7 separate regions of the Homo sapiens genome follow, and all the other regions are linked to region 5. The links come from fine-mapping of genetic effects on gene expression. A gene starts in region 5. Each other region holds a variant in brackets. All regions are shown on one strand. Distances are from middle to middle.

Evidence for each region.
Region 1: its variant is fine-mapped to the expression of SFI1 in whole blood (TOPMed, PIP 0.99).
Region 2: its variant is fine-mapped to the expression of SFI1 in whole blood (TOPMed, PIP above 0.99).
Region 3: its variant is fine-mapped to the expression of SFI1 in whole blood (TOPMed, PIP above 0.99).
Region 4: its variant is fine-mapped to the expression of SFI1 in whole blood (TOPMed, PIP above 0.99).
Region 6: its variant is fine-mapped to the expression of SFI1 in hypothalamus (GTEx, PIP above 0.99).
Region 7: its variant is fine-mapped to the expression of SFI1 in whole blood (INTERVAL, PIP above 0.99).

The regions. Positions count from the first base shown.
Region 1 is chr22:31,397,792-31,401,857 of GRCh38, reverse strand. It overlaps DRG1 (developmentally regulated GTP binding protein 1), which reads right to left and starts at 2,254. Exons shown (of 9, transcript NM_004147.4): 1 at 2,133-2,254; 2 at 1,115-1,238. The coding sequence starts at 2,174. RefSeq lists enhancers at 2,145-2,194, 1,322-2,227 and a silencer at 2,315-2,594. The variant TTC/C (reference allele first, on the strand shown) is at 1,797.
Region 2 is chr22:31,371,736-31,375,801 of GRCh38, reverse strand. No RefSeq gene overlaps it. Among named protein-coding and RNA genes, the nearest start is that of DRG1, 26 kb to the left of the region's middle. The variant C/A (reference allele first, on the strand shown) is at 2,477.
Region 3 is chr22:31,583,770-31,587,835 of GRCh38, reverse strand. It overlaps SFI1 (SFI1 centrin binding protein), which reads right to left. Exons shown (of 33, transcript NM_001007467.3): 13 at 3,864-3,961; 14 at 2,702-2,768. Among named protein-coding and RNA genes, the nearest start is that of MIR7109, 36 kb to the left of the region's middle. The variant G/A (reference allele first, on the strand shown) is at 1,906.
Region 4 is chr22:31,414,259-31,418,324 of GRCh38, reverse strand. The region is part of intron 4 of DRG1 (developmentally regulated GTP binding protein 1); the gene reads right to left. Among named protein-coding and RNA genes, the nearest start is that of DRG1, 17 kb to the right of the region's middle. The variant C/G (reference allele first, on the strand shown) is at 2,435.
Region 5 is chr22:31,494,918-31,498,983 of GRCh38, reverse strand. SFI1 (SFI1 centrin binding protein) reads right to left here and starts at 2,448. Exons shown (of 33, transcript NM_001007467.3): 1 at 2,347-2,448. RefSeq lists silencers at 1,427-1,486, 2,387-2,606 and an enhancer at 2,097-2,366.
Region 6 is chr22:31,802,785-31,806,850 of GRCh38, reverse strand. DEPDC5 (DEP domain containing 5, GATOR1 subcomplex subunit) reads right to left here. Exons shown (of 43, transcript NM_001242896.3): 15 at 4,013-4,066; 16 at 2,628-2,689; 17 at 1,936-2,009; 18 at 660-729. Among named protein-coding and RNA genes, the nearest start is that of DEPDC5, 51 kb to the right of the region's middle. The variant G/A (reference allele first, on the strand shown) is at 1,988.
Region 7 is chr22:31,551,404-31,555,469 of GRCh38, reverse strand. All of the region lies in intron 6 of SFI1 (SFI1 centrin binding protein), which reads right to left. Among named protein-coding and RNA genes, the nearest start is that of SFI1, 57 kb to the right of the region's middle. The variant AT/T (reference allele first, on the strand shown) is at 1,940.

The sequences.
Region 1 (4,066 bases), 97 kb after region 5:
GCTAGTCTCGAACTCCTGACCTGTGATCTGCCCACTTCGGCCTCCCGAAGTGCTGGGATTACAGGAGTGAGCCACCGCGCCTGGCCCTACTTTGGTTTTCTTAAGATGAGATCTCGCTCTATCACCCAGGATGGAGTGCAGTGGTGCCATCACAACTCACTGCAGCCTCAACCTCCTGGGTTCAAGCAGTCCTCCCAACTCAGCCTCCCAAGTAGCTGAGACCACAAACATGCACCACCATGCTAGGATACTTTTTTTTTTTTTTTTTTTTTTTGAGACAGAGTCTAGCTCTGTAGCCCAGGCTGGAGTGCAGTGGTACAATCTCACTCACTGCTACCTCTGCCTCCTGGGTCCCGATTCAAGCAATTCTCCTGCCTCAGCCTCTCAAATAGCTGGGATTACAGGCATGCGCCACCATGCCCAGCTAATTTTTGTATTTTTAGTAGAGATGGGGTTTCACCATGCTGGCCAAGCTGGTCTTGAACTCCTGATCTCGTGATCCACGCCTTGGCCTCCCAAAGTGCTAGGATTACAGGCGTGAGCCACCGCACCCAGCCTTTTTTTTTTTTTGGTACATCTTCTTTCATACCTATGGGGACCCCTCATTTCTAAGCCCATAGAGACAGGGCTTTGCTGGTTCCGAACTCCTGGCCTCAAGCAATCCTCCCGCCTCAGCCTCCCAAAGTGCTGGAATTACAAGGGTGAGCCACTGCACCCAGCGCATGTAAATCTATTTTGTATCAGTGCAGGATATAAATAAAACTACAGTACACTTAGACAATATTCATTTGCCTCTGAAACCGGCAGAATAAAAATAAACACAGTTCAAGAATTCATGCTTAGAAAATATAAATCTACTTTAGTAGAACATCTTTAGTTATTTTTCTGTTTTTAAAAAACTTTTTTTTTTTTTTGAGATGGGGGTCTATGTTGATCAGGCTGGTCTTGAACTCCTGGCCTCAAGTGATCCTCCTATCTCAGCCTCCCAGCATGCTAGGATTGCAGGCGTTGAGCCACTGCACTGGGCCATCTTTAGTTATTTTTAAACCACATGTATGTACTATTTTGACAAAAATTATACCTAAAAATATATATATTGAAGAAGAACACAAACCTTCTCCTGGACCTCCACCACCACCACCCTTTGGAGTAATGAGTTCTCGACGAAGCTTAGCAAGACGAGCCTTAAGCAGCCCTAAGTGGTGTGCTGTGGCCTTGTTCTTTTGAGTCCGAGCCATCTAAAAGGGAGGAATCACAGCCATAAATTAGAAGCAGTGAACGCTTCCCCCAGCTTTGAGAGGATAATTTTTTTCCCCAAGTCCTACTAATGTTAGCACACCCAGTTTACAGGCTTTAAAAGAGTAAAAGTCCATTATCTCCTCCATCCAGCTCATTTCCCTCACTACAAAGCAAAGCAAAGCCCAAAGAGGAAAGACGATTAAGGTCATTCCAATTAGTGCCCCCAGACTAGACTGAAACCCGTCTGCGGGTTCCTTTTCTACTATTTGCAGCTGTTTGGATCCATCTAACACTGGGACACCACTTTCCTAATTGTAAAGCGCTCTCAGGGCCGCACGCAATGGAATCACACACTATCCAGGCGGAATAAACTGCTCCCACACAGATGTCATTTTACTTCCAGATCCGATTACCGGGAGCAAATACTCTGAATCAGGGGGTCATTAGGGTAGACACTGGGAAAAGGGGGAATAAGGGGGACGCAGCGAAGGATGATGAGGAAAGATCCTGAACTATCTGACCAAGTCAGAGATGGAATAAGGGACAGGATTCAGTGT[TTC/C]TCAGAGCAAAACGGAAAGAAACAACATCAGAACAGGAGCCAAACACTGGGAGGGGGAACGGACTAAGGGCCTAAGGTGCAGGGGTGCGGAACGCGGGCCCGGGCAAAGGGGAGTCCGAGAGCGTAGACGCGGGACGAGGGGAAAGGGGGCCCTGACTGAGGAGAGTCGGGGACTCCTAATCGTGGCAGAGGGCAGTCGGAACACGGGCCTCGCTGAGAGAAGTCGCGGAATCTAGGCCCGGTCCTGACGCGGCTCAAAGGAGAACAGGAAGGAGCGACGCCACCAAAGAAGGAATGCTCAGACTAAGAGTGAACCGCCAGCTGCGTCCATTACCTCTGCTTCTATCTCCGCGATCTTAGCTAAGGTGCTGCTCATCGTGGCGAGTACCCTGTGGCCTCCACACTGTCTCCCTTCACACACCCGCGGGCAAACTGCCACCGCCACCAGGCGCTACTGCAGCACGCAGGCGCGGTACTTCGAATTACCGCGAGAGAGTTCCGCGTAGGGGTCACCGCGAGTCGCAAAGCGTGGGGCTGTCTCCTCCCCCTCACCCGACCCCGCCCCGTCCCGCGAGCCAGTGCGGTGTCATAGAGCCCGCGGGAGCGGAGGCCAGAGAGGCCACCCCTGTCTGGGCCTCCCCGAGCGCGCCGAGGGTCGCGCGCAGCTCGGCCCCGCCCAGCGGGACCCGCTCCCAGCTGCTCTGCATGGTACTGAACGCTTCAGTGCTGGAGACCCCAGGGCGTGGTGCAAAGCCGACTCATGCTCCGCACCCCTGTTCCTCGCCAGCATCTGCGGGTCCTGGGTCCCTTTTTCACAGCTGGGGTGACACCCCGACGCCCTCCATGGTCTTGGAGGGAGTAGAGACCCATCTTCAGCCTGCCTCACCCCCTTGGATAAAGAAAATGCCCCCTTTCTATCATTCAAAATTATTTTTAGGTCGGTTTTGTTTACTCCGAACCCCGAGTAGAGCACATGGGGAGCCCAAAATAAGTGCATACTTGAATGGATAATTCCCAGAGAACTGCTGCTTGCAACATAGTTTGTAATACCAAAAAATTGAAATCTATATTAACACCCATCAGTAGGAAAATGGATAAATGAATAATGCCTCTATCCTGTTTTTGAAATATGATTACAGCCGTTAAAACGTAGATCTGTGGTCTGACTGGCTACCCAGGACATGTTAAATGGGAAAACAACTAGCAGAAGGGCACCTACGTAGTGATACCATTTATGTTATTTTTAAAATTAAATGTACATTTATATAGGTGTACGTGTATGAACGTGCAGTTTAAAGGCCTAAACAGAAAAATACATCAGAAGCTCTTAACTGTGGGATGGGATGCAAAGAAAAGGCCTTTCACATTTTATTCCACAGAATTTTGAAGTTAAATTTTTACAAGACGAATGTATCCATGTATTACTTGTGTAATAATAAAATTTAAAATTTCAAAAGACTCCTCTTCCCCAAGTGTCATGAGGAAGCCAGGACGTCCAGGAACTATGTGGTGGTTTTGAAAGCGGTTTGCCTCAGGATCAATGGGTTGTTTTGATAGATTGATTATTCCAGCGGGAGTCGACAGGCCAGGCTTAACCCACAGTCGACAGGCCAGGCTTAACCCACAGGGCTGGCCTCCACCCAGCCCTGGGAGGGAAGTTTAATTTAGTTAAATTTGTAAACAAGAACTATTCTAACTTCCCAGAGACAAAAAAGGGAGGTTTTCTTGTGCATAAAGAGGGAGAAACAGAAGGGAAAGCTTTTACAGAAGGTCCCCAAAGGGCCAAAGAGAGTTTCTTCTTTCTTTTCTTTAACCTCAGCCTTTTTCATAAATAAATTAAGGGATGATGAGGTAATTAGATCCCACACTATTAGCAATGGAGGAGGGAAGATGAGGAGGTCCAGCTGGAATGGGACATGATCAAAGATCAATCTTAAAAGACAGATAAAATCAAATCAGCAGGCCTATCCTAACTTGAAGTACTTAAGGAATTAATTGGCTGACAATATCAAGGGCATCACTGCTCTGTGAGTAGGTGCTCCTTAGCAAATCTATTATATGAGGCCTGCAGATAAGTTAACACTTACTGCTCAAAGACACCCTGGGACCCACCTTGGGGCCCTGAACTGTCAATAGGCACCAAAGAGTAATACTCATTTTCCCGAGTCCTGGGTGGCCATCCTGTTCATGCAATCGTTATTTACAGAGCTCCAACTGCTGCCTGGCACTGTGACAACACTGGGGACAGAGTAGAGAGTGAATCAGATA
Region 2 (4,066 bases), 120 kb after region 5:
CTGTAATCCCAGCAATTTTGGAGGCCGAGGCGGGCAGATCACTTAAGGTCAGGAGTTCCAAGACCAGCCTGGCCAACATGGTGAAACCCTGTCTCTACCAAAAATATAAAAAATTAGTCGGGTATGGTAGTGCGAGTTTGTAATCCCAGCTACTTGGGAAGCTGAGAACCTGGGAGGTGGGGGTTGTAGTAAGCCAAGATTACACCACTGCATTCCAGCCGGGGCAACAGAGTGAGACTCCCTCTCAAAAAAAAAAAAAAAAAAAAAAAAAGGCCATAGTGAAGTAACATCTCAACAGAAAAATGAAAAATATAAAAAATGGGATTCATGGAAAAGTACAATGTCAGAAATGAAAAATTCACCATGGAGAGTTAACAAAAGATTAAAAAGTACAGAGTAAAGCTAAAATAAACTTGAAGGACCAATAAAAGTTATCCAAGTTGGAAAAACAGAAAGGAAAAAATGAACAGAGTCTTAGTGTCTCCTGGGCCACTAGCAAACTATAACACCTGTAATAGGAGTCCACAAGGAGAGAAGAGATAATGGAGTGGAAAAACTATGTGAAAAAAGAAAGGCCAAAACGTCCTCTTTTTTTCTTTAGAGAAGGGTCTTTCGTTGTGTGGCCCAGGCTGGTGTGGCACAACCATAGTTCACAGCAGCCTTGAAATCCTGGGCTAAAACAATCCTCCCACTTCAGCCTTCTAAGTAGCTGGCATGCACCACCACACCCAGCTAATTTCTAAATTTTTTTTAGAGGTGATTTATTGCTGAGGCTGGTCTCAAACTCCTGGCCTCAAGCAATCCTCCAAATTCAGCTTCCCAAAGTGCTGGGATTACAGCATGATTCACTGCACCCAGCCTAAAATTGTCTTTTATATTTTTAAAATTTCTTTAAAGGACAACTGTTTAAAGCAAAAACAAAAATATTGTATTGTGAGATTTTACAACACTCATAAAATATAAGACTATCGTAGCACAGAAGACAATATTGAGGGTGTAAATGGAATCATACTGTTGTGAGAGTTTTACATTTTTCATAAAATGATACAATATTAAGGCCGGGCGCAATGGCTCATGCCTGTAATCCCAAAGCTTTGGAATTACAAACGAGGTCAGGAGATCGAGACCATCCTAGCCAACATGATGAAACCCCATCTCTACTAAAAATACAAAAATTAGCCGGATGTGGTGGCACACACCTGTAGTCGAAGCTACTTAGGAGGCTGAAGGAGGAGAACTGTTTGAACTTGGGAGGCAGAGGCTGCAGTGAGCCAAGATCGCTCCACTGCACTCGAGCCTGGTGACACAGCAAGACTCTGTCTCAAAAGAAATAAAAATAAAAAATGGCCACAAATAAGTACTAGAAGATATATACTTGAAAATGGCTGAGAAAGTAGTTTTTAAGTGTTCTCACCACAGAAAAAAAAAGTATGAGAGGTAAGACATATGTTAATTAGTTTGATTTAGCCATTTCACATATTCTACAAATTTCAAAACATCATGTTGTACACCATAAATATATATAATTTTGTAAATTAAAAAAATAAATTTAGGCTGGGCGCAGTGGCTCATGCCTATAATCCCGGCACTTTGGGAGGCTGAGGTGGGCAGATCACCTGAGGTCAGGAGTTCAAAACCAGCTTGGCGAACAAGGTAAAACCCCGTCTCTACTAAAAATACAACAATTAGCCAGGCATGGTGGCACGTGCCTGTAGTCCCAGCGACTCGGGAGGCTGAGGCAGGAGAATCACTTGAACCCGGGAAGCGGAGGTTGCAGTGAGCCGAGATCATGCCACTGCACTCCAGCCTGGGCAACAGAGTGAGACTCATCTCAAAAAAAAAAAAAATACAAAATTGAGCCAGGCGTGGTGGTACGCGCCTGTAATCCCAACTACTCAGGAGGCTGAGACATAAGAATTGCTTGAACCTCGGAGGTGGACCCAAGATTGCGCCACTGCACTCCAGCCTGGGTGACAAAGCGAGACTGTCTCAAAAGGAAAACAACAAGAAAACACACCATGGGTGAGACCCCATCTCATATAAATAAATAAATACACAATGATCCCTACTGTTTGGGAGGCTGAGACAGGAGGATCACTTGAGCCCAGGAGTTCCAATTCCTCCTGGGAAACACAGTGAGACTCTGTCTAATAAATAAATAAATAAATAAGCCATGACAAGTCCAGAAAGATCTTGAAAGAAAGGAAAAAGCTTTAAATGTTATTACCTTTTTTTTTTTTGAGAGGGAGTCTTGCTCTGTCCCCCAGGCTAGAGTGAAGTCCGCCTCCCGGGTTCACACCATTCTCTTCCTCAGCCTCCCGAGTAGCTGGGACTACAGGCACCCGCCACCATGCCCGGCTAATTTTTTGTATTTTTAGTAGATATGGGGTTTCACGGTATTAGCCAGGATGGTCTCAATCTCCTGACCTCGTGATCCGCCACCTGCCTCGGCCTCCCAAAGTGCTGGGATTACAGG[C/A]GTGAGACACCGTGCCTGGGGGCTATGTTATTACTTTCAACAGCACATTTTTTGCCAGGCACGGTGGCTCACGCCTGTAATCCCAGCACTTTGGGAGGGCGAAGCGGGTGGATCATGAGGTCAGGAGTTCGAGACAAGCCTGGCCAGCATGGTGAAACCCTGTCTCTACTAAATATAGAAAAAAATTAGCCAGGCATGGTGGCACGCGCCTGTAGTCCCAGCTACTCTGGAGGCTGATGCAGGAAAATTGCTTGAACCCAGGACGCAGAGGTTGCAGTGAGTGAAGATCGCGGCACTGCACTCCAGCCTGAAGATTGCAGCACTGCACTCCAGCCTGGGTGACAGGGCGAGACTCCATCTCAAAAAAAAAAAAAAAAAAAAAAAAAAAAAAACAACCAAAAAACCAGCACATTTTTTTCCCCTGCCTTTTGTACAAAGGTCCCTGCATTTTCATTTTGCACTGAGTCTCAAAAATGACACAGCCAGGCTAGGCGTGGTGGTTCATGCCTGTAATCCCAGCACTTTGGGAGGCCAAGGCAGATGGATCATCAGAGGTCAGGAGTTCGAGACCAGCCTGGCCAACACAGGGAAATCCCATCTTTACTAAAAATACAAAAATTAGCCGGCCATAGTGATGCATACCTGCAATTCCAGCTAGCTGGGAGGCTGAGGCAGAAGAATAGTTTGAACTTGGGAGGCAGAGGTTGCAGTGAGCAGAGATTGCACGACTACACTCCAGCCTGGGTGACAGAGTGAGCTATCTCCAAAAAAAAAAAAAAAAAAATTACACTGCCAGCCATAGGCACTGCCAAAAGAAAAACCCTGGGATCTCTGCTTCTGAGTGAAGTAAAAGGAAAAAAAAACCTAGGTGAGATAGCAGTCCTGTTTATCTAGCTTTAGTACAAGATGTATTAACAGCAACATGTACCTGGTCATGCCAAAAACCAATGTTCAAGTTTTTTAAAAAATTTGCCTTAGTCCATTCTAGTCTTTTTTTTTTTTGACGGAGTTTCACTCTTGTTGCCCAGGCTGGAGTGTAATGGCACGATTTCGGCTCACTACAACCTCTGCCTCCCGGGTTCAAGTGATTCTCCTGCCTCAGCCTCCTGAGTAGCTGGGATTACAGGTGCCCGCTACCATACCCGGCTAATTTTTGTATTTTTAGTAGAGATGGGGTTTTGCCGTGTTGGCCAGGCTGGTCTCGAACTCCTGACCTCAGGTGATCTGCCCGCCTTGGCCTCCCAAAGTGCTGGAATTACAGGTGTGAGCCACTGTGCCCAGTCTAGTCTGAGTTTTTATTTTTATTTTTATTTTTATTATATTTATTTATTTATTTTATTTTATTTTTTTGAGACAGTTTCGCTCTTGTTGCCCAGGCTGGAGGGCAATGCACAATCTCAGCTCACTGCAACCTCCGGCTCCTGGATTCAAGTAATTCTCCTGCCTCAGCCTCCTTAGTAGCTGAGATTACTGGCATGTACCACCACGCCCCGCTAATTTTGTATTTTTAGTAGAGACAGGGTTTTACTATGTTGGTCAGGGTAATCTGGAACTCCTGACCTCAGGTGATCCACCCGCCTCGGCCTCCCA
Region 3 (4,066 bases), 89 kb before region 5:
CTACACATTGCTTTTCTATTTTTTATTATGGGCATTTTCAAATGTAAACAAAAGTAGAAGCCGACAGTATAATGAATACCCATGACCCTACCATCAAGCTTCAACAGTTAGCAAACATTCGCCATTCTGCAAAGAGCCATCCTTTGGTATTTGTGGGGGACTGGTTCCAGGGCCCCTCTCAGATACCAAAATCCATGGATACTCAAGTATCTTATATAAAATGGTATAGCAGGCCGGGTGCAGTGGCTCATGCCTGTAATCCCAGCACTTTGGGATGCTGAGGCAGGCAGAGCTTGGGAGTTTGAGACCAGCCTGGGTAACATGGTGGCACCCCACCTCTACAAAAAAAAAAACAAAACACAAACATTAGCTGGGCGTGGTGGCTTGCACCTGTAGTCCCAGCTACTTGGGAGGCTGAGGCAGGAGAATCGCTTGAGCCTGGGGAGAGTGAGGCTGCAGTGAGCCAAGATCATGCCACTGTACTCCAGCCTGGGTGACAAAGTGAAACCTGTCTCAAAAACAAAACAAAACAAATAAATTGGCATCTGCATATAACCTACACAGTCCTCCTGTATGCATCTCTAGATTACTCATAATACCCAATACAATGTCAATGCTATGTACATAGTTGTTATGCTATATTGTTTATATATTGTTTAGGGGCTAATGACAAGAAAAAAAGGTCTGAATATGTTCAGTACAGACACAACTACTCTTTTTTTCCTCTGAATATTTTTTATCCATGGTTGGTTGAATCTATGGATGTGGAACCCACAGATACAGAGGGCTGACTGTATGTTACTTTTTAAAAAGGAAGAAACCCACAAAAAATAATATTTTTATCTTGTCTAAGAATAGAAAGATCTGATGTGCTCCTGGGATACCTATACCAAGAGGTGATATTCAGATTGTTAGCTAAAGGTTTAGGAATGACTAAGCAGTGCTCTTCCCATTTTTCAGACCCGCTATACCTTTGAAAGCAGGCCGTGCTAGATCAGTGTGAGAGATGAAAACGCTGACCCTGGACTGTCCGCCAGTGTTGGGCCCCTGTGTCAAGGGGAGTGCTCGTTTTCCAGGAAGGAAATAAAAGAGACCCTCTGCTCTCCACCTTGAATAAATACAACCTTTCAACTCTGACACTCATAGTCTTTTTCTGAAAGGCTTTCCTGCATTCTGGTGAACTTGTATTACATGAACTTAAGATAACAAGTGGCAATGTCTTTTCAAAGCCAGTAACATAATCCAAAGGCATGTCAAAGAATGCAGTGACTCTAGCATTTCTTAAGTGTAGGAGGCAAGAGTGACGCAAAAAGAGGCCATGCCCTGTAGCATCCAAGCTCTATCGACTTAGATCATCCTTGGAAAAAAACTCTGAAGAAATCAACAGCAGTTCATTTGTTGGTCTGTGCATTAATTCATCCAAATATTAGCACATATCCCATGCCAAGCACTGTGGGCTAAGGAGGCAAAAGGGACAGGCTGTACTCTAAAGGACTTCACAGCCTGTGGGGAAAGAGAAGCCAGTGAACAACTATAAGATGAATGTTCTGATAAAGCTATGCCTCTGGGGTAGGGGTGGAGGTGGACTGGCCTGGGGGAGGAGGTGACATCTGAGCTGGAAGGGAGTGTGAAATAGAGAACTGGAGGTACAAAGAGAAGCAGGAGGGCACAGAGGACCTTTAGGGAACCACTGGCAGCTTAACTGGTCAGAGTGCAGTTGTGAAGGAACAGAGTGGTAACAGGAAAGGGGAGAGAAACAGACAGGGACCAGCTCCCGAAGGAGTTTGTAGGCCTTGCTAAAAATTTGGATTCTATCCCCAAACTATAGGGAACTAGCTAACAGGTGAATCTAAAGATTCACCTGTTAGACTCCAACAGAAGATGGAGGTACGGGTAGGGTGGGCA[G/A]CACGAAAATAACTGGGAGGAGTTTGGTTTGTGTCTTCCTCTGTTTCACTGCCAGAGATGACCAAAAAGGGGGCACTTCTCACAATGGCAGATGCCATCAACTGAACCCTTTCCCACTGAGTGTAAATATGGCCTTGAAATCCTTCTCACTTCAACATTCCAGACAGGTACTCCCAATTGGTAGAACGGGCTTGTAAGGTCACACTCATTTGTCACCCTGGTGCTAAAGTATGAGCCCTGGGAGAGCAGGAATTTTATTGACTTTATATCACAGTTGTATCCTCAGTGCTTAGTGCAGTGTCTGAAGAACAGCAGTTGCTCAATAAGTATTTCTTAAATGGAATTGAATCTATCTTTCTCAATCTGCCTTTACTTATTTGTGGTCCTGACCTCACATCCTCCACCCCCGGGAGACATGTGTCTCACACTGTTTAGCACTGGGATGCAGCACTTATGCTCTGCACCTCTCCCTGTACCTCTTGCAGGTCCCACTGGGTGAAGGGCTGGCTAACTCAGAGACTAAATGAATTTGAGTAAAGATGTGAATGGCTGATAAGAGCTCAGTACTTTCAGAGAGAACTTGTATTTTCATAGCAGATAAGAAATGGGAGTTATGCAGACTTTCTGATATTAGAGGTGGGAACTGGAAGAAATGACTTTGAGCTTTTTCAACACCCTCTCTTCCAAAGCAGAACGATAAGACTTCTTGGCATAGGTCTTTTCCAAGAATCTTTCCAAAGCAAATGGGTCCAAGAATGTAAGCCAGTAGAGCTATCTGCTAAAAAGTACTCCATACCTGCTTGTACCGCCTCTTCTGAGTATACTGTAGCCACAATTCGATACATTTGCACAGCAGTGCTATTCTGAAACAAAAGGAAGAACACCTTCAGGTTTCAAGTTTTTAAAACTTTGTTTTAAGGCAGGTAAATTGCGGTACAGTTACTTCCTGTGAGTTAAAGGCACCCCATGGGCTTACTAGTTTCATTCTAGGAGAGACGGCAATAAGAACCTGATATCTAATATAAAATTTGTCAACCTCTGATTTTGGACTGTGGATTGCCTAAAATGTTGCAACTTTCTTGTAAAACCTAATTAGACCACCGAAAGCACAGTAGCTCTGGAATTTAGGAAATATGTGTGAAATCCCCTAGATATCCTGAACTTTCTGGTTTCATGGCCAAACGCTGGGGGTCCACGACATGTTGCCTCTCACACTAGGTTTTGTAAACCAGGGTTTGGAATAATATGCCTTGATAACTCTAAATGAGTCAGTTTATTATTGGGATTCTCACTAACTCATTAAAAAATGCTTCAAAATTGGAGCTAAACTATGCAAATTAAGTTGATTATACTGTGGGGAGAGGAAAAAAGGAGGGCAAAGAAAGGAAGGACATATTGAACATTTCTGGCAGCAAGAAAGTTTATACGTAGTGCTTCCTTCTGAGGAGTAAGATCTTACTCTTACTTGTAGGGAGGGGGCCAGGCAACTTTTATTTTTCCCTTTATACTTTCCACCCTATACATTCTGAGTTTTCCTCACAGAAATGTAGTGTTTTTATTTATTTAACTGAATGACTAGCTCTAAAATATTGAGGACATTCCCTGCACACTTTAAGACTGAGTCACAAATGTCCCTGACCCTTCTCTTTAACACTAGCAATGCATGAATTCTAACTTGTGAACATATTGATGCCTGTAGGACCAAGGCAGTGAGCGACCAGGCACATACTTCAGACTATGGTGGCCAAGAACCAATGCAAATATGCTCATTCTATCTCCCATCTGATCAGCCAAAAACCCAAAGTCAGGAACAAATGGTTTACAGCAGGACCTCCACCCCAGCAGGCCTTTCTGAATCTGCCACACTAACGCATAGAAGGGCAAGCAATTACTCCTGGAAAACAGTAAGTCAGAGGCACAAAGTCCCTGAGAGCCAGGGATGAAACCAGAGTCCCTACCTGTAGTGGTCCCAGGCAGCATGCAGTAAGGGGAGCAGCTCTCTTTCCTTTTTCTGCTCAATCTGAGACCGCCAGAGGTTCCAGAACCTGTGCAGCAGCTAAAGCAAGGGAGGAAGAAGATGGAAATGTACTGAGATGAAAGGTAAAACAGTGAATCCTTACTCCAACAGACTGTGAGCTCCCCCAAAGCAGAAATGACCTCA
Region 4 (4,066 bases), 81 kb after region 5:
CCATGTCACATGGCTATTTTTTTCTTTTTTTTAATTTTTATTTTTGTAGAGACAGGGTCTTGCAATGTTGCCCAGGTTGGTCTCGAACTCCTGGCCTCAAGTGATCCTCCTGCCTCAGCCTCCCAAAGTGCTGGGATTACAGGTATGAGCCATTGCACCTGACCCTGACCCCTCATTCTTTTTTTGAGATGCAGTAGAGACAGCATTTCACCATGTTGTTCAGGCTGGTCTTGAACTCCTGACCTCATGATCTGCCCACCTCGGCCTCCCAAAGTGTTGGGATTACAGGCGTGAGCCACCATGCCCAGCCTCAGTGGTAGACTTTTTTTTTTTTTTTGAGATGGAGTTTCACTCTTGTTGCCCAGGCTGGAGTGCATTGGTGCGACCTCAGCTCACAACCTCTGCCTCCTGGGTTCAAGCAATTCTCCTGACTCAGCCTCCCAAGTAGCTGGGATTACAGGCATGGACCACCACTCCTAGCTAATTTTGCATTTTTAATAGAGACAGGGTTTCTCCATGTTAGTCAGGCTGGTCTCAAACTTTCAACCTCAGGTGATCCGCTCGCCTCAGCCTCCTAAAGTGCTGGGATTACATGCATGTACCACCATGCCCAGCCTGATTTTATTTTATTTATTTTATTTTTTTGAGATGGAGTCTTGCTCTGTCATGCAGGCTGGAGTGCAATGGCGTGATCTCGGCTCACTGCAACCTCCGCCTCCTGGGTTCAAGCTATTCTCCTGCCTCAGCCTCCCAAGTAGCTGGGACTACAGGCATGCATCACCATGCCCAGCTACTTTTTGTATTTTTAGTACAGACAGGGTTTCACCATGATAGCCAGACTGGTCTCAAACTCCTGATCTCAAGTGATCCACCCCCCTCAGCCTCCCAGAGTGCTGCAATTACAGGCATGAGCCACCAAGCAGCCATGATTTTATTTTTATTATTATTATTTTTTGACACAGAGTCTTGCTCTGTCGCCAGGCTGGAGTGCAGTGGTGCAATCTCGGCTCACTGCAACCTCTGCCTCCCAGGTTTAAGCGATTCTCCTGCCTCAGCCTCCCGAGCAGCTTGGGACTACAGGCGCGCACCACCACACCCAGCTAATTTTTGTATTTTTAGCAGAGACGGGGTTTCACCACCTTGGCCAGGTTGGTCTCGATCTCCTGACCTGGTGATCCACCCGCCTCGGCCTCCCAAAGTGCTGGAATTACAGGTGTGAGCCACCATGCCCGGCCTTATTATTATTATTATTTTTTTTTTTGAGACAGGGTGTCTGTGTGCTGCCCAGGCTGCAGTGCAGTGGCATGATCATGGCTCACTGCAGATTGACCTCCTGGGCTCAAGAGAACCTCCTACCTCAGCCTCCCGAACAGCTGGGACTACAGAAGCATACCACCACATCCAGCTATTTTTTTTTTTTTTTTTGAGACAGAATCTTGCTGTCACCAGGGTGGAGTGCAATGGTGCAATTTCCGCTCACTACAACCTCTGCCGCCTGGATTCAAGCGATTCTCCTGCCTCAGCCTTCTGAGTAGCTGGGACTATAGGCACACGCCACCATGCCCAGCTAATTTTTATATTTTTAATAGACACGCGGTTTCACCATGTTGGCCAGGATGGTCTCGATCTCTTCATCTTGTGATGCACCTGCTTCAGCCTCCCAAAGTGCTGGAATTACAGACTATGGAATTACAGGTACCTGCCACCATGCCTGGCTAATTTTTGTATTTTTAGTAGAGATGGGGTTTCACCACGTTGGCCAGGCTGGTCTTGAACTCCTGACCTCAGGTGATCCACCCACCTTGGCCTCCCAAAGTGCTGGAATTACAGACTGTGAGCCACCACACCCGGACGGCCAGTGATATCTTAAGCCCAGTGACTGAAGTGATAGAAAAGGAGGTCAGAGAGGCAGCCAGGGGCCAGGTCATTTACCGTAGCTTGTAAGCTATGTTAAGACTTTGGGTCTCATCCCAAATAATATGGGAAAACATCAGAAGGTATAGCCAACAAATGACATGATCTGACTTCTTTTTTTTGTTTGCTTTCTTGAGACAGAGTCTCACTCTGTCACGCAGGCTGGAATGCAGTGGTGTCATCTCACCTGACTACAACCTCCGCCTCCCAGGTTCAAGTGATCCTCCCATCTCAGCCTCCCAAGTAGCTAATTTTTGTATTTTTAGTAGAGATCGGGTTTTGCCGTGTTAGCCAGGATAGTCTGGAACTCCTGGCCTCAAGTGATCTGCCTGCCTCTGTGCTGGGATTACAGTCATGAGCCATCGTGCCTGGACTGATCTGACTTCTTATACACAATCATACTAGCTGTAGTGAGAAGATACTACAGAGCAGTAGGATAGCAGCAAGAAGGCCAGTTATGGGGCTATAATGTTAGAGACAAGGCATAATGAAGGAAGTGACAATATAGGTGAAGAGTTTG[C/G]AGTCACTACGAATCAAAGGGGAAAAAAAAAGAAGGTGTTGGGGAAAGTGACCCATTATACAGAGAAAATTAAAATTGGATACCCTTCTAATATCAGATATAAGAGTAGTCTCTAGGTAAATAAAGGACCTAAAAGTATAGAAAAAACAGGAGACTATATCTAAGACCTAAGGAAAGATAAGGACTTCTTAAATAAAACTTTAAAAGCACAAACCATAAGAAAAAATAAAGAGTAGGCCAGGTGCTCACACCTGTAATCTCAGCACTTTGGGAGGCCGAGGCAGGCGGATCACTTGAGGTGAGGAGTTCTAGACAAGCCTGGCCAACATGGTGAAACCCCGTTTCTACTAAAAATACAAAAAAATTAGCCAGGCGTGGTGGCACACACCTGTGGTCCCAGCTACAAATAAAGTGTAGATTCTAACAAAATTAAGGATTTTTATTCAACAAATACCACCTTGGACAAAATTAACGGGAGAAGATATTTATAATGTCTAAAGATGACAAGGAATTAATATCGAGAGCAGTGGTATCCAATAAAAGTTTCTGTAATAATGAAAATATTCTGCATCTGTACTGTGCAATACAGTAGTTACTAGTCAAGTGTAGCTAATAAACACATAAAATGTGGTTTACATAATTGAGGAACTAAATTTTAAATTTTATTCAATTGTAATTAAATGTTAGTCACATGTAACTAGTAGATATCATATTAGACATAGAATTTAAGAGAAATACTTGAAAAACAGTAAGACAACAATCACTGCCTAGGCAATATATCGAGATTCTACCCCTAAAAAAGTAAAAATCAATCAGCCTGCCATGGTCGTACATGCCAGCAGTCCCAGCTACTCGGGAAGCTGAGAAGAGAGAGACTCTCGAGCCCGGGGTTTTCGAGACCACCCTGAACAACATAGTGAGACTGTCTCTCAAAAAGTAAAAAATTAGCGGGTATGATGGTACATGCCTGTAGTCCTTAGCTACTCAAGAGGCTAAGAAGGAAGGATCACCTGATCCCAGGAAATTGAGGCTGCAGTGAGCTGTGATCATGCCACTGTACTCCAGCCTGGGCAAGAGAGCAAGATCCTATCTCTAAAAAAAAAAAAAAAAGAAAATGTGCCATGAACTGAGAAGCATGATTAACTCAACCTTTTGGTAGAGTTTCCTCCTTAGCATAGTAGCCAGCATGTCAGTCACATAAGTTTTTCACTTAAGGATGAAAAAGGGGGAAAAAAAGAGTGGCTGGCCTCTAGATATATTTCAAAGGTAAAACCAGCTGGATATAACAACACAGTAGATGTGCGGGATGAAAGGGAAAAAAAGATTTGACCTAAAAGTTCTGAAGGATAAATTTGCCTTTACTGAGATAGAAAAGACTAAGGGAAGAGCAAGTTGAGGATGGGAGATCAAGAATTTTTTTGTTTTTTAATTTTTAAATTTACTTTCATTTTTTAATAGAGATGAGGTATCACTATGTTGCCCAGGCTGGTCTCAAACTCCTGAGCTCAAGTGATCCTCCCGCCTCAGCTAAGATCAAGAATGTAATCTTACACGTTAACTTTGAGACACCTAATTAGACATCCAAGCAGAGATATGTTGGCAGCTGGTATGCACTTCATCAGAGGGCAAATT
Region 5 (4,066 bases):
TGTAATCCCAGCACTTTGGGAGGCCGAAGCAGGTGGATCACATGAGGTCAGGAGGTCAAGAGTGTGCCATGCACTCCAGCCTGGGCAATAAGAGTGAAACTCCATCTCAAAAAAAAAAAAAAAGAAAAAAAGAAGCCACTCCTCATCCATCCAAGTTTTATCATGAGGTTGCAGCAATTGGTCACATTTTTAGGCTCCCCTTCTAATTCCAGTTTGCTTGATTTTTCTATCATATCTGCAGTTACTTCCTCCACTCGGGTCTTGAGTCTCTCAGTTATCCATGGCGGCCTGACTCAACTTTTTCAAACTCCTTTTAATGATTTTTTTTTTTTTTAGACGGAGTCTTGCTCTGTCGCCCAGGCTGGAGTGCAGTGGTGCAGTCTTGGCTCACTGCAACCTCTGCCTCCTGGGTTCAAGCAATTCTCATGCCTCAGCCTCCTGAGTAACTGGGATTACAGGCGCCCACCACCACACCCAGCTAATTTTTGTATTTTTAGTAGACACAGGGTTTCTTCAAGTTGGCCAGGCTGGAATTGATATTTTAACCCCTTCCCACAAATCATGAATGTTCTTAATGGCACCTAGAAATCCTTTCCAGAACATTTTCAATTTACTTTGCCCAGATCCATCAGAGGAATCACTACCTATGGCAGCTATGGGGTCACAAAATATATATATATTTTTTTGATATGGAGTCTCATCACTCTGTCGCCCAGGCTGGAGTGCAATGGCGCAATCTTGGCTCACTGCAAGCTCCGCCTCCCGGGTTCAAGTGATTCTCCTGCCTCAGCCTCCCCAGTAGCTGGGATTATGGGTGCCCGCCACCACATCCGGCTAATATTTTGTATTTTTTAGTTGAGACGGGGTTTCACTATGTTGGCCAGGCTGGTCTCAAACTCCTGACCTCGTGATCCACCCGCCTCGGCCTCCCAAAGTGCTGGGATTACAGGCATGAGCCACCATGCCCAGCCCACAAAATGTATTTCTTAAATAATGACTTGAAAGTCAAAATTACTCCTTGAACCATGGGCTATAGAATGCATACTGTGTTAGCAGACATGTAAAGTAACATTAATCTCTTTGTACATCTTCATCAGAGTTCCTTGGTGACCAGGTGCCTTGTTAATGACCAGTAATATCTTGAAAGGAATCCTTTTTTCTGAACAGTAGGTCTCGATAGTAGGCTTAAAATATTCAGTAAACCACACTGTAAATATGATGTAAAGACATTCAGTAAAGAGATGTGTGGTCATCCTGGGTTTGTTGTTGCATTTACAGAGCATAGGCATTTCTAGCTTCGTCATTTCTAGCTTCGTCATTTCTAGCTTTTGATATAAAGTGAGAGACATGGAACTCTTCCTTTCACTGAACACTTAGGGGCCACTGTGGGGCTATTAATTGGCCTAATTTCAATATTGTTGCCTCTCAGGCTACAAGGAGGACCGAGAGGGAGGAGAGAAACAGGGAACTGGCAGGTAGTGGAGCAGTCAGACACAACACTTAAGTTTGCTGTCTTATACCAGTGAGGTTCGTGGCCACCTAAAACAATTGCAATAACAACATCAAAGATCACTGATCACAGATCACTGTAACGGTGCACCTGAAATAAAAAGTTTGAAATATAGCGATAGTTACCAAAGTGTAAGTGACAGGAAGTGGGCACATGCTGTTGAAAAAATAGTTGCTCGGTGCAGGGCTGCTTGCTACAAACTTTCAATTTGTAAAAAACACGGTATCTGTGAAGTGCAATAAAGCGAGGTATGGCTGTACTCAAGTCCCTCACATCATTCATTCAACAAATATTTACAACACATCTACACAGCAGTTAAGAAACCTGAACAGCCTCCCATAAAAACAGGTACCCACCTCCCACGCGGGGAAGGCTTCCAGGTTTGTTTACTGCGTTACTCCCTGCGGGCTCAGTGGGAGTAAGGTCGCCCATATACCAGCCCTTCCGCTCCTGGGCCACGGAGCCGGGAGGAGGAAACCCCTGATTTGGATCCGCGCACGCTAAGGGGCATTGCGTGGACTCGAGCACCGGCCAGGAGCGCACTAGACGCCTGGGAGGATGCGGTGCCCCCAGGGCGGAAGACAAGAAGCCGAGAAGACGCGGCGGGAGAGGATGGCAGGCTCCGGGCCCCGTCCTGCGCCCTCTTGTCGCACTTCCTCCATTCCCGCACCACAGACCCGCAGGTAGACAACATCACCTGCACTTTCAGGGGAGGAAGCGGAGGCTCGGACAGATTTCACCGGGCTCGGAGGAACCCGACTGAGGTCCTTGCCGGGCTCACTGCCGGAAAGGCCGAGCCCAGAAGAGGGTGGGGACGTTAGGGCCGGGCCTCGTACCTGGGGAAGCCGAGCCATCGGGCCTGACGTTGGGAGAAAACCCGGCGGTATACGGCGATCCGGGACCTGCTTCTTAACTCCCGCGCGGTCCACGCCCGCCTCAGCGCTTCGCGCGCCTCTAGACGCCAGTCTCGCGCGGGCCCGCCCTCGTCTCCACGGCGACGCGGCGCGCACGAGGACCACCCCGCCCAGACCCCGGGGCTTGCGCAGCCTCAGTCGGGTAGGTGGCGCACTTCGGGTTGCTTTGCAGCAGCAGCAATGAGAATCGGTTTCGAGGGGCGTGGAGCATGCACCCTCTGGGCATCCCCACCGAGGGTTCTTTATCTCCTTGGCTCGCCAGCTTCGCTCTGAGCTCAGCTTGCTACTGCTCCTCTTAGACAAGAGAAGTGGGAGGTATTCCGAGGCGGAACCCCGAGTTACGCCGCCCGCGGCCGAGCACTAAAGATGAGGTTCCAGCTGGGAGGCGGCTGCGTACGAAAGTCCTCCCTCCCTCACTTCCGGACTCGTGCGTGGGCCTCTCTGGCTTTTGGTTCACAGGGAGTGGAAACCGGAACCCGTGGAGTATGACCCGCCCATGCGTGGACCCGGCAGGTTGCTACAACTTGCACTTGGAGGGGAGAGGTCCCAAGGCCCCCGAATTAGAAATGCCAGGCTCATCTCTTTTTGTAACCCTTCATTTTAAAATGTAATTAATAAGCACTCTTTTTGTTAAATTTTTAAATTTGGGCCGATCCTAATAATCTTAAAAATAGGAGTGGGAGGGGTAAGTGGGACTTTTCAAATACTTTTTTACGTGCTTTGTAAAACATTTGAAAGCACGTGAGATTCCTGGTGCAGAGACTAAAAGCAGTAGTTATTTATTTGAAAGATTTTACGCTAAAAACAGGAAAATTAACTTGTTGGGTGTCTCGGGCTTAGCATCACAGACAATTTGTATTTTTGCCCTATTTTCTACATGCTAATTTTTGCAATTAAAACATTTATTATTTATTTTTTGAGAAGGAGTCTCCCTCTGTAGCCCAGGCTGCAGTGCAGTGGCGTGATCTGGGCTCACTTCCACCTCCACCTCCCGGGTTCAAGTGTTTCTCCTGCCTCAGCCTCCCAGGCGCACGCCACCACGCCCGGCTAATTTTTTTTTGTTTTTTTGATAGAGACGGTTTTTACCATGTTGGCCAGGTGTGTCTCGAACTCCTGACCTCAGATGATCCGCCCGCCTCGGCCTCCCAAAGTGCTGTGATTACAGGCATGAGCCACCGCGCCTGGCCCTAAATTATGTTTTATATGGTGAAACCTCGTCTCTACTAAAAATAAAATTTAAAAAATTAGCCGGGGGTGGTAGTGGGCACCTGTAATCCCAGCTACTGGGGAGGCTGAGGCAGGAGAATCGCTTGAACCCAGGAGGCAAATGTTGCAGTGGGCCGAGATCGTGTATTTGCATTTGCCTGGGCAACAAGAGCAAAACTGTCTCAATAATAATAATAATAATAATTTAAAGGGAGTTCTACTTTAGCGGACATCAATGCTAATGTTTTAGGGACAACTTTTATCTGAACTTAATGTGGCCAAGTAGTTTTAAAATAATTTAGTAAGCTTCAAGGTTGTAATTAACAGTATAACAAAAATATATTTACTGTAATTTAGCCTAAGTACTTTTATGTAATTATGTAAATTTATATAAATTATATATTTAGGATAAGTCAATAAGCACTTCTTTCTAGAT
Region 6 (4,066 bases), 310 kb before region 5:
TTTTACAGAAATGGGGTCTCACTATATTTGTTGCCCAGATCGGTCTCAAACTCCTGGCTTCAAACAATCCTCCTTCCTCAGCCACCCAAAGCACTGGGGTTACAGGCAAGAGCCACTGCACACAGCCAGAATTTTCATTTCTTTATACTAAGATCTGACCTTTTTATCATATTTCCCCTTTGCTGCAATGCATATCTGCATCTTTGTCTTTATCCCCACTGGTATCTGAGTGGCTTCAACATCTGAATAAAACAGTCAGGTCACAATAAAACGAACTCTTAAACAAACAAACAAAAAATGAACTCTTGGTCTTGGTCATATTTTTCTCAAAGGTATTTCACGCAGTCTGGCCTTGGCCTTGTTATTTATTTATCTAATGTATAAAGTTATAAAGTTTGGGGATGAATTTCTTAACCCTGTTCATGGCCATTGGGAAAGATGAGGGTACCTCAGGACTAAAATAACCCTATCAATGCGTGATAGTCCACAAAGGCTCTCTGCTGATTAATGAAATCTACCTTCTTGGCTGGGCAGAATGGCTCATGTCTGTAATCCCAACACTTTGGGAGGCTGAAACAGGAGGACTGATTGAGTCCAGGAGCTCAAGATAAGACTGGACCACATAATAAGACCCCGTCTTAACAAAAATAAAAACCTACCTTCTTTCCTGCCAGTTTTATTCGTGGGGTGAAACTATTACAAAAGAGCTGGCTTTTGGATGTGTAGAAACTGTAAAAGAAACAAACAGAGTCATTAATCTAAATTCCCTTTATTTTAAAACTCAAAACACAGTTAAAATACTAGGCATGGATCAGCCCTCCTGACATGGGCTTTGTTCTCAGCTTCACTAATCTTCCCAATTTTAACTTCTTTTACAAGAATTCACTACAAAACATTAGTTATGTTTTGTTTTTTGGTAGAGACAGAGTCTGGCTACACTGACCAAAATGGTTTCAAACTCCTGGCCTCAAGCATTCCTCCCACCTCAGCATCCCAAAGTGCTGGGATTACAGGCATGAGCCACTGTGACCGGCCTGAAATTGCTACTTTTGTAGGTCAAAAACAGTCTAATATCATGATATCAAATAGTATAAACTAATAGCTGCAGCTTTGCCATGAACTTGCTATTCAAGACCAGGTTGGCCAACACAGTGAAATCTCGTTTCTACTAAAAATACAAAAATTAGCCGGGCGTGGCGGCAGGCACCTGTAATCCCAACTACGCAGGAGGCTGAGGCAAGAGAATCACTTGAACCCGGGTGGTGGAGGTTGCAGTGAGCCAAGATCATGTCACTGCACTCCAGCCTGGGTGACAGAGTGAAACTCCGTCTTAAAAAAAAAAAAGAAAGAAAGAAAGACAACCCAGAGAAGGATAGAATGCTCTGGAAGCACTGAAGAAAAAGTGGCTGTTAGCTATCAGGGCAGCACAGGAGGAATTCATAAAAGAGAGATGCTGGAGTTGGATCTTGGAAGAAAATAGGCATTTTCAGGAGAAGGGTAGGTGGAATAAGATTAGTGTCATAGTTCAAAAAGATGAGGCACTGGCACTGGCAGAGGGATGAGAAAAGCCATCCCTGAGCTGGAATCAGCAGGATTCCATGTAAAGAGGCGCGGGGACTTCTCTAGAGCTGAAGGAGGTCAGGTACAAATGTTGGTCTTCTACAGTCTGTGGGAGTTGGGAATAGAAGGACATGGGAACTGCAGAGGAAGTAAGTCCTTCAAATTTTGTTTTTATTCTTTTTCACCATAGACTGTTCCTATGATACTGCTACTGCTTTGTGTGTACAGAGCTTTGAGCAAATGTTAGAACTTGGTTTCCACATTTTCTTAACAAAAGGTTTAGTGCCATAATAAGAACTTAACAGATTTAAAGAAAAATGGCAAGGAAGCTGTTCAAAACGCTTATCACCTACTATTGATCGAGATCGCACCCACCTGTGGTTTATCCAGTGAGGGATATTATAGTCATCGCCCAGACGAGAATCAC[G/A]GGGAGCACTCCGATTATGGAGCTGCAAGGAGAAAAATGAGAGCACAGATAAGCTACAGAACAAGTAGGTTTTGGAACTGCTCTAACTTTTCTGTTTTTCAGGTTTTTAAAAAAAATTTTTTAGGGCTGGGCGCTGTGGGTCATGCCTGTAATCCCAGCAATTTGGGAGGCCAAGGCGGGCGGACCACCTGCAATCAGGTGTTCAAGACCAGCCTGGCCAACATGGTGAAACCCCGTCTCTACTAAAAATACAAAAATTAGCCTGGCATGGTGGCAGGCGCCTGTAATCATAGCTACTCGGGAGGCTGAGGCAGGAGAACTGATTGAACCCGGGAGGCAGAGGTTGCAGTGAGCCAACATCGCACCATTGCACTCCAGCCTGGAGGACAAGAACAAGACATCGTCTCAAAAATAATTTTTTTAGAGATAGAGTCTTGCTTTGCTGCCCAGGCTGGAGTGCAGTGGTTATTCATAGGCATGTTCATAGCAAACTATACCGAAACTCCTAGGCTTAAGGGATCTTCCCACTTCAGCCTCTCGAGTAAGTGGGACTATAAGTGCATGCCACAGCGCCTGGAATTTTTCTCTTTCTAACTATACTCCAACTGGCCTTTAGTAAACAAATCCGAAATCTAATTACCTTGAACAATGGGACAGCATGTAACGGTTGCTCTCCCATGCACACCAAATCCACACCAATTCCTAAAAAAAGAAAAGACAAAAAGAATTGTGGGGAGGGAATGGCAGAGACAAGTGTCCCTATCTATAAATCATGTTATTTAAATGGGTAGTAGGCAAAGCTAACTTACCATTGTATGATTTATAACCTCATAGTGCTGCCTATCCAACAAAGAAGTAAATACATTCATTTTGTCTGTTTCCTCTTTTCCAAGTGCCCTACTAACGTATCATTATTCGGTGCTTGACAATTAGCCTTTGACTGTCCTACAGGTCATGACTTGTTTAAAAAAAGACAACCAAACTTCCATGTTTAAATTTTTAAGGCCAGAAAGGAACAGTAACTTTGTAATATCTCAGTAAAAAGTAAAACAATCCACATCACTTAACAGAGCTTCTTTAGTGGCATCAGGATTTACTTTCCAAACTCCTTTTTTTTTTTGACAGTCTTGCTCTGCTGCCCAGGCTGACATGCAGTGGCGTGAGATCACGGCTCACTGCAACCTCCACCTTCTGGGTTCAAGCAATTCTACTGCCTCAGCGTCCCAACTCCATCTTGTTGATGAAACAAATCAAATTGGGGGGTGTGGGGCTGAGTTGGGGATACGAGGCACATCATGGAGGAAGGACTGGACTAGATGACCTGATAGTGCATCTGAAAATGGGCTGACAGCGGCTGGGTGTGGTGGCTCATGCCTGCAATCCTAGAACTTTGGGAGGCCAAGACGGGCGGATCACAAGGTCAGGAGATCGAGACCATCCTGGCTAACACGGAGAAGCTCCACCTCTACTAAAAATACAAAAAAAATTAGCCGGGCATGGTGGCGGATGCCTGTAGTCCCAGCTACTTGGGAGGCTGAGGCAGGAGAATAGTGTGAACCCAGGAGGCGGAGCTTGCAGTGAGCCAAGATCACACCACTGCACTCCAGCCTGGGAGACAGAGCGAGACTCCGTCTAAAAAAAAAAAGAAAGAAAGAAAATCGGCTGACAGCACATGGGTCCCTTGAAATCATCCCTCCAGGAAGGCTTCTCTAGTGCCAAATATGTTTGGGGAACTCAGAGTACCCTGACACAACCTTTAGAGAAAAACAACCTACACTAACATATTAAAAACTGAGGAAGACCTGTCATTATGGAACCTGCTTATCTTTGCATGACCCAGCATTTCCCAAACTGATTTGACCATGAAATTTTAGCACCTGACACCTATTGACATCCACAGACGTTGTGACACACAGAACACTATGTAGAGCTCCTCACACTCTAAGAAGTCAGTGAAGCTCACAGTTCTAAGGGGAAATCAGGCTAGGAACATGTGGAGACAGGGCACAAACCAGAGAGCATTACCATTATCTATCATCCGCTGCTTGGTCAGGATCATGAGTAGGCGGTCCACTTCAA
Region 7 (4,066 bases), 56 kb before region 5:
ACAGTCCAAGAGTGAATGGACACTCCCTGAGGTCTAGGGGAATGGCCTGAAATAACTTGTCTTATGTCAGAAATAACTCTTGCCTCTTGAGTAGCTGGGACTGCAGGCATGCACCACCACACCTGGCTAATTTTTGTATTTTTTTGTAGAGATGAGGTTTTGCCATGTTGCTTGGGCTGGTCTCGAACTCCTGGGCCCAAGCAATCTTCCCACCTCAGCCTCCCAAAGTGCTGGGATTATAGGCGTGAGCCACCGCCTATAAAAAAGTCATCCAAGTGACTTTTTCCTTCTATTCCATAATATCTAGCTAGATTCACTGTAACTATAAATAAGACAGCAGAATGTACATTCTTCAAGTAAATATAGAACATTTACAAGATAGAGCATATTTGGGGCCACAGAACAAACCTTAACAAAAATAAAGGAACTGAAATCATACTAAGTCTTGTTCTCTGACAATAATAGAATAAACTAGAAATCCTTAACAGAAAGATATTGGGAAACTCCCAAATATTAGAAAACTAAACACACTTCTAAATAATCTGTGGGGCAAAGATGAGGTCTCAGGGAAAATCAGAAAACAAGTTTTTACTGAATGAAAACAGAAATATAACTTATTAAAATTCGTGTAATATAGTTAGTGTTTAAGAGAACTTTATAGCAGTAAATGTCTCTACTAAAAATACAAAAAAAAAATTAGCCGGGCGTGGTGGCAGGTACCTTTACTCCCAGCTACTCAGTAGTCTGAGGCAAGATAATTGCTTGAACCCAGGAGGCAGAGGCTGCAGTGAGCCGAGATCACGCCACTCTGCACTCCATCCTGGGTGACAAAGTGAGGCTCCATCTGAAAAAAAAAAAAAAAGGCTGGGCGCAGTGGCTCAAGCCTGTAATCCCAGCACTTTGGGAGGCCGAGGTGGGCGGATCACGAGGTCAGGAGATCAAGACCATCCTGGCTAACACTGTGAAATCCCGTCTCTATTAAAAATACAAAAAATTAGCCGGGCGGGGTGGTGGGCACCTGTAGTCCCAGCTAATTGGGAGGCTGAGGTAGGAGAATGGCGTGAATCCGGGAGGTGGAGCTTGCGGTGAGCCGAGATCGTGCCACTGCACTCCAGCCTGGGCAATAGAGCGAGACTCCATCTCAAAATTTAAAAAAAAGAAAAAAGAAAAAGAAATAATAAATTAACTTAGCAAGGATGCAGGATATACAAGATCCATATGTAAAACTACAGAATGTTTAGGAGAAAACATAAGAGGAAATCTTTGTGACCCTGGGTTAAGGCAAAGTTCTTAGAGATGACATCTAAGATAGGATATGAAAAAATATAATCCAGCTGGGCACAGTGGCTCATGACTGTAATCCCAGGGCTTTGGGAAGCCGAAGTGGGAGAACTGCTTGAGGCCAGGAGTTTCAGACCAGCCTGGGCAACAAAGCAAGACCCCCATCTCTGTAAAATATAAAAAACTTAGCCAGGTATGGTGGGGCATTGTCTGTAGTCCCAGCTACTTGGGAGGCTGAGGTCAGAGCCTAGGAGTTCCAGGCTGCAATGGGTTATCCTCACACCACTGCACTCCAACCTGGGCAACAGTGGGACTCTCGCAAAAAAAAAAAAAAAAAAAAAAAAAAAAAACATAATCCATTAAAAAAAAATAGAATGGACTTCATCAAAATTAAAAACTTTTCCTCTGCAAAAGATACTGTTAAGAGAATGAAAAGACAAGTCACAGACTAGGAGAAAACATAGCAAATCATGCTTTGACAAAATGCTTATAACAGAATACATATTTTAAAAAACCAGCTGGGCTTGGTGGCTCACCCCTGTGGTCCCAGCACTTTGGGAGGCCGAGGCAGGTGGATCCCCTGAGGTCAGGAGTTCCAGATCACCCTGGCTAACATGGTGAAACCCTGTCTCTACTGAAAAAAAAAAAAAAAAAAAAA[AT/T]ACAAAAATTAGCTGGGCATGGTAGCGCACCATGTAGTCCCAGCTACTCGGGAGGCTAAGGTGGGAGAATCACTTAAACCCGGGAGGTCGAGGTTGCAGTGAGCCGAGATTGCGCCACTGCACTCCAGCCTGGGCAAGAGTGAGATTCCGTGTCAAAAAAAACCAAACCAACCAAACAAACAAAAAACTTTCAAATCTCAAAAAGAACACAAACAACCCAATTTAAAAGGACAAAAGATCATGAACAGATACTTCACCAAACAGATATAAATAGCAAATAAGCACAGGAAAAGATACTCAACATCACTAATTATCAGAGAAATGCAAACTAAAACCACAATGAGATATCATCTTACACTAGTCAGAACGACTGTTATTAAAAAGTTAGGCTGGGTGCAGTGGCTTATGCTTGTAATCCTAGCACTTTTGGAGGCTGAGGAAGGAGAATCACTGGAGCCCAGGGGTCCAAGACCAGCTTGGGCAACATAGCCAGACCCTGTCTCCATAACATATAAAAAGTTAGCCAGGTGTGGTAGCACATGCCTACGGTCCCAGCTACTCAGGAGTCTGAGGTGGGAGGATTACTTGGCCCAGGAAGTCAAGGCTGCAGTGAGCTATGACCAAGCCACTGCACTCCAGCCTGGGTGACACAGCAAGACATCCCCTGTCTTTAAAAAAAAAAAGTTTAATAACAGATGTTGGCATGCACGTGGAGAAAGGGAACACTTAACACACTGGTGGTGGGAATATAAATTAGTTGAACCTCTATGGAAAACAGTATGGAGATTTCTCAAAGAACTAAAAACAGAACCACCATTCGACCCAGCAATCCCACTAGCGGGAATCTACCCAAACGAAGAGAAATTATTATATTAAAAAGACACCTGCTCTCATATGTTCACTGCAGCACTATTCTCAACAGCAAAGTCATGGAATCAACCTCAGCATCCATCAACAGATACAGAAAATATACACCACAGCCGGGCGTGGTGGCTCATGCCTGCAATCTCAGTACTTTGGGAGGCCGAGGCAGGCAGATCACTGAGGTCAGGAGTTTGAGACCAGCCTGGCCAATATAGTGAAACCTTGTCTCTACTAAAAATACAAAAATTAGTTGGGCATGGTGGCACACGCCTGTAGTCCCAGGTACTTGAGAGGCTGAGGCAGAAGCAACACTTGAACCCAGGAGGTGGAGGCTGCAGTGAGCCGAGATCACACCACTGCACTCCAGCCTGGGTGACAGAGTGAGACAGTCTCAAATAAAAAAAAAAGAAAGAAAATACACACCATGGAATACCACCCAGCCATAAAAAAGAATGAAATCATGTCCTTTGCACCAACATGGATGGAGCTGGAGGCCATTATCCTAAGTGAACTAACTCAGAAACAGAAAATCAAATACCACATATTCTCACTTATAAGCGGGAGCTAAACTGTTGGTACACACAGACATAAAGGTGGAGATAATAGACACTGGGGACTCCAAACGAGGGGAAGGGAGGGTGGAAGAGGCCCAAGGGTTGAAAAATTACCTATCATGTACAACGTTCACTATTTGGGTAGTGGACAGTCAAATCTCCATCATTATGCAGTATACTCATGTAACACCAATTTTTAAAAACCCACAATTAAATGCCTGTATACACCTATTAGTATGGCCAAAGAAAAAATTTTAATGACAATACAAAGAGGTCAAGAGGATGCAGAGCAAGTAGAACTCTCGTGAATTACTGGTGGGAATGCAAAATGGCACAGCCATGATAAAAAACCTTGCCAGTTTCTTATAGAATTAAACTTAAGGCCAGGCACAGTGGCTCACACCTGTATTGCCAGCACTTTGGGAGAGCGAGGCAGGTGGATTGCTTTAGTCCAGGAGTTTGAAACCAGCCTGGGCAACATGGCAAAAGCCCATCTCTACCAAAAATACAAAAATTTAGCTGTATGTGGTAGTGTGTATCAAAGTCTTAGAACTGAACTTCAAAAAGAATGAATCTTACTGTATGTATTAAAAAAATAAACAACAAACAGCGTAAGTTACTTACCAGTGAAACAGTGCATTTGGTGCAGTAATCATGAGGCTTGGGTAAGAGCTTCTCATACTTTGGGAATACAGACAGGGGAAAGAT